2 linked regions of the Homo sapiens genome follow. The protein of the gene in region 1 purifies or fractionates together with the protein of each later gene. This does not show direct contact. Each region holds a gene or a part of one and is shown on either strand. Other genes may lie near its edges.

Evidence for each region.
Region 2: the proteins of TRPM8 (region 1) and KCNJ11 purify together in Homo sapiens (affinity purification with mass spectrometry; 2 studies listed by BioGRID and IntAct, with this or other methods). This does not show direct contact.

The regions. Positions count from the first base shown.
Region 1 is NC_000002.12:234,011,281-234,015,029, forward strand, and holds part of TRPM8 (transient receptor potential cation channel subfamily M member 8), read left to right. Parts: intron 1-3,281; coding exon 3,282-3,332; 3' UTR 3,333-3,374; intron 3,375-3,749.
Region 2 is NC_000011.10:17,386,997-17,390,745, forward strand, and holds the start of KCNJ11 (ATP-sensitive inward rectifier potassium channel 11), read right to left. Parts: upstream 1,664-3,749; 5' UTR 1,096-1,663; coding exon 1-1,095. UniProt on the Homo sapiens protein: Inward rectifier potassium channel that forms the pore of ATP-sensitive potassium channels (KATP), regulating potassium permeability as a function of cytoplasmic ATP and ADP concentrations in many different cells.

The DNA.
Region 1 (3,749 bases):
ATTTATTTCTGGGCCCTTTATTCTATTCCATTGGTCTATAGTCTGTTTTTATGTCAGTACCGTACTGTTTTGATTACTTTAGCTTTGTAATATAATTTGAAGTCAGGAAGTGTGATGCTTCCAGCTTAGTTCTTTTTGCTCAAGATTGCTTTGGCTATTCAGAATCTTCTGTGGTTTTATATAATTTTAGGATTGTTTTCTCTATTTCTTTAAAAAAAAAGCTCATGGAATTTTGATAGGGATTGCATTGAATCTGTAGACTTCTTTGAGTAGAATGGATATTTTGGCAATATTCATTTTTTCAATCCATGAACATGGGATGTTTTTCCATTTATTTGTGTCTTTTAAAATTTCCTGGCCGGGCGCAGTGGTTCATGCCTGTAATCCCAGCACTTTGGGAGGCCGAGGCAGGTGGATCACAAGGTCAGGAGATCGAGACCATCCTGGCTAACACAGGGAAACCCCGTCTCTACTAAAAACAGAAAAATTAGCCGGGTGTGGTGGCAGGCACCTGTAGTCCCAGCTACTCTGGAGGCTAAGGCAGGAGAATGGCGTGAACCTGGGAGGCAGAGCTTGCAGTGAACCGAGATCGCGCCACTGCACTCCAGCCTGGGAGACAGAGCGAGACTGTCTCAAAAAAAAAAAAAAAAAAAAAGATTTCCTTTATCAATGTTTTATAATTTCCAGTGTACCAGTCTTTTACTTCTTTGTTAAATTTGTAAGAATTTTATTCTTTTTGTTACTTATATTAATGGATTGTTTTCATAATTTCCCTTCTAGATAGCTCTTTGTTGGTGTATAGAAATGCCATTAATTTTTATGTGTTGACTTTGTATCCTGCAAATATACTGAATTTATTTATGAGTTCTAACAGTTTTTTTTTTTTTTTGAGACAGAGTCTCTGTCACCCAGGCTGGAGTGCAGTGGTGCAATCTCAGCCCACTGCAACCTCTGCCTCCTGGGTTCAAGCGATTCTCCTGCTTCAGCCTCCTGAGTAGCTGGGATTACAGGCGTGCACCACCATGCCCGGCTAATTTTTGTATTTTTAGTAGAGATGGGGTTTCACCATGTTGAGCAGGATGGTCTCCATCTCCTGACCTTGTGATCTGCCTGCCTTGGACTCCCAAAGTGCTAGGATTACAGGCATGAGCCACCACGCCCAGCAGTCCTAACAGTTTTTTTTTGTGTGTGTGAGAGTGTGTGTGTGTGTGTGTGTGAGTGTGTGTAGTCTTTAGGATTTTCTTCATATAAGATTATGTTATATGCAAATAGAGATAATTTTACTTTCTTCTTTGTTATTTAGATGCCTTTTCTTTTCTTTTTTTCTTGTCTGATTTCTCTGGCTAGAACTTGTCATGCTATGTTAAATAGCAGTGGTGAGAATGGGCATCCTTGCCTTATTCTTGATCTTAGAGAAAAAGCTTTCAATTTTACCCCATTAAATATGATTTTAGTTGTGGGTTTTTTCATATATGGCCTTTATTGTGTTGTAGTAAGTTCCTTCTATATCGATTTTGTTGAGAGTCTTTTTTTTTCTTTTATCATGAAAAGGCCTTGAATTTTGTCAACTACTTTTTCTGTATCTATTGAGATGATCATGTGGTTTTTGTCTTTCATTCTGTTAATGTAGTGTATCACACTGATGAATCTTCATATTTTGAACCACCCTTGCATCCCAGGGCTAAATACCCCTGGGTGGTGGTGTCTTCACGGATCCTTTTAATATGCTCTGAAATTCAGTTTGCTAGTATTTTATTGAGATTTCTGTATCTATGTTCCTCAGGAACATTGGCCTATAGTTTTCTTTTCTTGTGTTATCTTTTTCCGGCTTTGGTAAAAGAACAATGCTGGCCTCACACAATGAATTTGTACTTGTTCCCTTTTCTATTTTTTGGAAGAGTCTAAGGTTTGGCATTTGTTCTTCTTTGACTGTCTGCTAGAATTTACCAGTAAGCCATCTGATTTCCCAGTAAGCCATCCTGGGCTTTTCTTTGTTGAAAGCTTTTTGATTGCTGATTTTCATTTTCTTCATTTGTTGTTTGTCTGTTCAGGCTTTGTATTTCTTCTTGATTCAGGTCTTTGTAAGTTGTACATTTCTGGGATATTTCCATTTCTTCTAGGTTGTCCACCTTGTTTGCATATAATTGTTCATACTAGCCCCTTCTGATCCCTTTCATTTCTATGCCCTCTGTTGTAAGGTTGTCTTTCTCATTTCTGACTGTATTTATTTGTATCTTCTTCCTTTTCTTAAAAGGTTTGTTGATTTTGTTTATCTTTTCAAAAAACCAACTCTTACTTTCAATGATTTTTTTTCCCATTGTTTTTCAACTCTCTTTTTTAAAAATGTATTTTGCTCTTGGAGTTTTTGCTCTACTTTAAACAGCTTACTAAAGTCATTTTACTATTAACAAATACAAGGCTCTTTCAAAAGCTCCTATAGGGAATACAAAATTTCCCCATCTCCTTATACCAGAAAACAAAGTTATTTACAATTCATCTTAAGTCTGTAAGTATGGATCTTACTATGCCTTATTTATTTTAGGAAGCCGTTAGCACTTATAGTTTCATTTTTTTCTTTTATTTTTAAACAGTTAAAGTAAAAGGTTACTACTGGAATTAAGCTCAACTTAAATACAGATTTTTTTCTTGAGTGAGTGATAAAGCAAATTAGAAACCAAACTGTACAGAAATTGCTTTTAGCAAATGTAGTAATATGACATGTAATTTAAAATGACTTCATGTATCTTTTGTAATAAATTTGTGAAACATGCATGGATCAAGATTAATTTCATTATGCCTCTTACTTAAATTGTCTGCTGTTTTTGTGTGTGTGGGGAAATCTTTTATTTGCAAAAATTTGATTTCTTAGTATCACATTATTTTTATTAGTATTATACTTTTACCAAAGCAAAACTTAATTAGTATCTTATACTTTTATTAATGTTAGTTACATAGAACATTATTCTTTTTACATATTACTTGTTTGTATTATTGCAATCTATTATTTCTGTTTGGGAGCACTAATGATTTGGATCTGAGTAAAGTTAATATTAATTGGTTTACTAATTGGTTACTAATTGCTAGTGATATGATTTCAGAAAGTAAGCAATGATCAGGATCTGAAATATCACATGCCACTCTCATTCTGCCTTATTTTAGATGTGCCATGCTTGCTATTTAGTAGACATGTCTGTTTCTTAGAAAAGGCACAGAGCGATAATTTAAAAATGAAAGTTGGAAAATTTATCTTAAGATGAGTTCTATTTTTTTCTCTTTCCAAGCTTAATGATCTCAAGGGTCTTCTGAAAGAGATTGCTAATAAAATCAAATAAAACTGTATGAACTCTAATGGAGAAAAATCTAATTATAGCAAGGTGAGTCATTCTAATAGCTTTTTACTTTGCTCTGAAGATTTGCATCTTTTAAGACTAATTTAAGATCATGATTTTTTCCTCAGTTATTTTATTTCCATAAATTACCAAATTTGAAAATAATGCATTGTGCAAAAAAAAAAAATACAGAGATAGAGAAAGAACAAGTTGAAGTTCCTCCTCACATTACCTTCCCTACCAATTTTGCTGCCCACACCAGGGATTAGCATTGCTACGAGCAGGGTGTAAGTATCTTGTCCTGTAGGACCTTTTAAAACACTTGCAACCTATGCAGCTATTTTGGCATGAATTGAAACAAGGTCACACTGTTCCAAGTTCTGTTATTTTTTGATCTTCCTTAATTCTGTATCATGAATG
Region 2 (3,749 bases), on another chromosome or scaffold:
GCGGGCTGAGGCGAGGGTCAGAGCTTCCAGTAGGCTGTGGTCCTCATCAAGCTGGCGGGCCGTGCAGAGTGGTGTGGGCACTTTGACGGTGTTGCCAAACTTGGAGTAGTCCACAGAGTAACGTCCGTCCTCCTCAGCTACAATGGGCACAAAGCGCTGGCCCCACAGGATCTCATCGGCCAGGTAGGAGGTGCGGGCCTGGGTGGTGATGCCCGTGGTTTCCACCACGCCTTCCAGGATGACGATGATCTCGAGGTCCTGGTGGTGGTGCAGGTCGCTGGGTGCCAGGTCGTAGAGTGGGCTGTTGGCATCAATGACATGGTAGATGATCAGCGGGGCCACCAGGAAGATGCTGTTGCCACCCACGCCGTTCTCCATGGGGATGTCCACCTGGTGGAGGGGCACCACCTCGCCCTCGGGGCTGGTGGTCTTGCGTACCACCTGCATGTGGATGGTGGCGCTGATGATCATGCTCTTGCGGAGGTCACCCACACGTAGCATGAAGCAGAGGCGGCCGTGGCGCAGGGCGATCACCGCATGCTTGCTGAAGATGAGGGTCTCAGCCCTGCGGTGGGCTTGGGCAGTCTTCATGAAGATGCAGCCAAGCATGATGGCGTTGATCATGAGCCCCACGATGTTCTGCACGATGAGGATCAGGATGGCCAGTGGGCACTCCTCAGTCACCATGCGCCCCCCAAAGCCAATAGTCACTTGGACCTCAATGGAGAAAAGGAAGGCAGACGAGAAGGAGTGGATGCTGGTGACACAGGGCTCAGCAGTGCCCTCGCTGGGGGCCAGGTCACCGTGGGCGAAGGCGATGAGCCACCAGGCCATGGCGAAGAGCAGCCAGCTGCACAGGAAGGACATGGTGAAGATGAGCAATGTGTGTGGCCACTTGAGGTCCACCAGCGTGGTGAACACGTCCTGCAGGAAGCGGCCCTGCTCCCGGATGTTCTTGTGGGCCACGTTGCAGTTGCCTTTCTTGGACACAAAGCGGGCCCTCCGCTGGCGGGCACGGTACCTGGGCTTGGCAGGGTCCTCTGCCAGGCGTGTCAGCACGTATTCCTCGGGGATGATGCCCTTGCGGGACAGCATGGCTCCGGTGACCCCCAGGGAGGGGCTTCCCCCATCGGAGGCACCCCTCGGACGTGGCCTAGGGCCTCACTGCAGAGTCCTCTCGGTGGGCACCTTCTCACCCTGGGGCTGCACTCAGCCTGTGCTGGCCTCACTTCTGAGATAACTCCCCACCAGACTCTTCCTTACCTCCACCTGGGTCCCACTTCACTTCTTAATACCAGCCTCAGGCCGGGCGCGGTGGCTCACGCCTGTAATCCCAGTACGTTGGGAGGCTGAGGAGGGCAGATCACTAGGTCAGGAGTTCGAGACCAGCCTGACCAACATGGTGAAACCCCATCTCTACTAAAAATACAAAAGTTAGCCGGGCATGGTGGTGCGCACCTGTAATCCCAGCTACTCAGGAAGCTGAGGCAGGAGAATCGCTTGAACCCGAGAGGCGGAGGTTGCAGTGAGCCAAGATCACGCCACTGCACTCCAGCCTGGGCGACAGAGCGAGACTCCGTCTCAAAAACAAAAAACAAAACAAAAAAAACAGCCTCACCCTTGAGCCCACCTGCCTGGCGCCTAGGGAGCCCCCAACCCTGCCGGCTCTCCACCTGGCCCTGCGTCCTCCCCCAGCTTCCCCCACCAGCTGACCACCCCTGGGCCTCCCGCTAAGAGCCCTTCTCCCCGCCCAGCCTGCCTTCCCAGCCCAGCTCAGAACTTAACACCTCCGGATCTCTCCCACTAACCGGACCTCACCCCCACCTCCGGGTCTCCCGCCTCACCTGTCTGGCCTTCGGGCTCCCAGGCTCCAGCTCAGGTCCTGGCCACCCCCGCCCCGTCTCTCCTCCAGGTGCGCCCCCTATGTCCTACTCCACCCCTCCCGGAGCGCCCCCGCCGCTTTCCGGATCCCCCTCCAGCTCTCGTCCTCTCTGTCTCCTTGGGATCCTGCGTTCTCTGGAGTCACCACCCCACCCGGCTCAACCGCGGCTCCCCGGACCTGCGCGCGACCCGGCGGGGCTGACTCCGAGTCGCGGCCTCCCGGTCCCTGCCGCCCGCCCGCGCCGCGGCTCCCGCTCCGCGCCGGGTCCCGGCCCCGCCCGCCGCCGCCGCTGCACCTGCTCCTGCTCCTCACGCCACGGCCGTCGCCTCCCCGCCCCCTCCCGCCGCCCGGGCGCTCGCGGCTGGCCGTCCTCCCGTCTGTCTGTCCGTCCGTGGGTCCGCGGAGACCGACCTGGGCTAGGCAGGGGTCTAGGACGGCGGGAGGGGGGCGCACGAGGAGAGGAACGGGGCCGGGGACCGCCAGGGGGAGCCCGACCTGCACCGGAGCGCAGGGGGCGGGGCCGGAGCAAGCCCCCGCCCCTCCCGCGCCCCTCCCCGCCCCCGCCCTCCACCTCCCCTCCCGGGACTCACAACCCGGCCTTTGGAGTTTTTCTGATCCGCGGAACCCAGAGGTTCCTCCTGCCCACGCTCTACGAAAGTGGGGGGCTGGGAGGGATCTGTGACCCGCCCTCCCAGTCTGGGGCCGCCGCCCTGTCGCCCTGGCTCCCCTCCCCCAATATCCCCATCCGTATTTGGGTCAGTAATCCGCCTCTCGGCCGCGCCAGGTTTGCAGGTTCCCCGGGAAAGGAGGCGCTGAGAGGCGGCGCCACCAATCCCAGGGCTGGCGGAAATTAGGCGGTCCGAGGACTTCTCAACCTGCAGCTGCTTCTCTTTGGGGGATGCTCTTAATCTTAGTCTTGAATCCTTTGACAATCTGATGGAAGCTCAGACTCCCTCTCATTAAAAAAAAAAAAAAAAAAAAAAAAAAAAAAGGCCTCGGCAGGAAAGGAGCACAGTTTAACACCTGCTACTGCTGTGGGGCAGCCTGGGCGGCTCCATCTTCTCAGCCATTCCGGCCCTACTTTAAAGAAGGTTTGAGCCGAGGCCACTTGCTTTACACTTTCTCACACCTGTCACCTGACTTCTTCCACGTTAGGTCATGGGTGGTATTTAGGCCTGAACAGTGTGTTAGGGCTGCCTCGGGCACTGGGGGACCCAGGCTCTTGGTCCCGGCATGGTGGTGTTTCTGTTCAGGCATCAGCCTGAGGCTGCCCTGTGGCATGGACCCGGGTTCTCAGCTGGGAGGGAAAGCCTGCTAGATCTCTGTTGTTGGAACAGTAACGGCTTTACCGCTGTCTGTGGCTCAGATCCTTATGGAAGAACCCCTGACCATCTGCGGCCATTTTGTTGGAGTGGGGGCTTGAGACAGGGTCTGGAAAAGGCAGTGTGGCTGTGGGCCACAGTGGGGGCAAGATATGCATTTTATATTGGATTTTCCTTTCTCTCCCTACCCACCTGCAGGCAGAGCGAACACCGCTACAAAGGATGGGTGTGATCATGGGCTATATTAACAAAGATGCAGTGTCTAGGAAGGGGAGGGTAAAATGAGATGAGCAGAGTGGGAAGCTCAAGGAGACAGGGTTACATGGGGAAATCTCTGAGGCAACTACAACTGTCCAGCCATCAGAAAAGGAAAGTCCCCCAGGGATTTGGGCACTATTGCAGAAACACCTGGCCTTGAAGGAGGATGAACTAGTAGTTTTTTGTGGCCCAAAGGGTAGAACCAGGACACTAAGTGGAACAGAGGCAGGCTTTGGTTTCACATATGCAAGAGTCAGTTCTAATAACAATAACCAGAGATGAGCCAC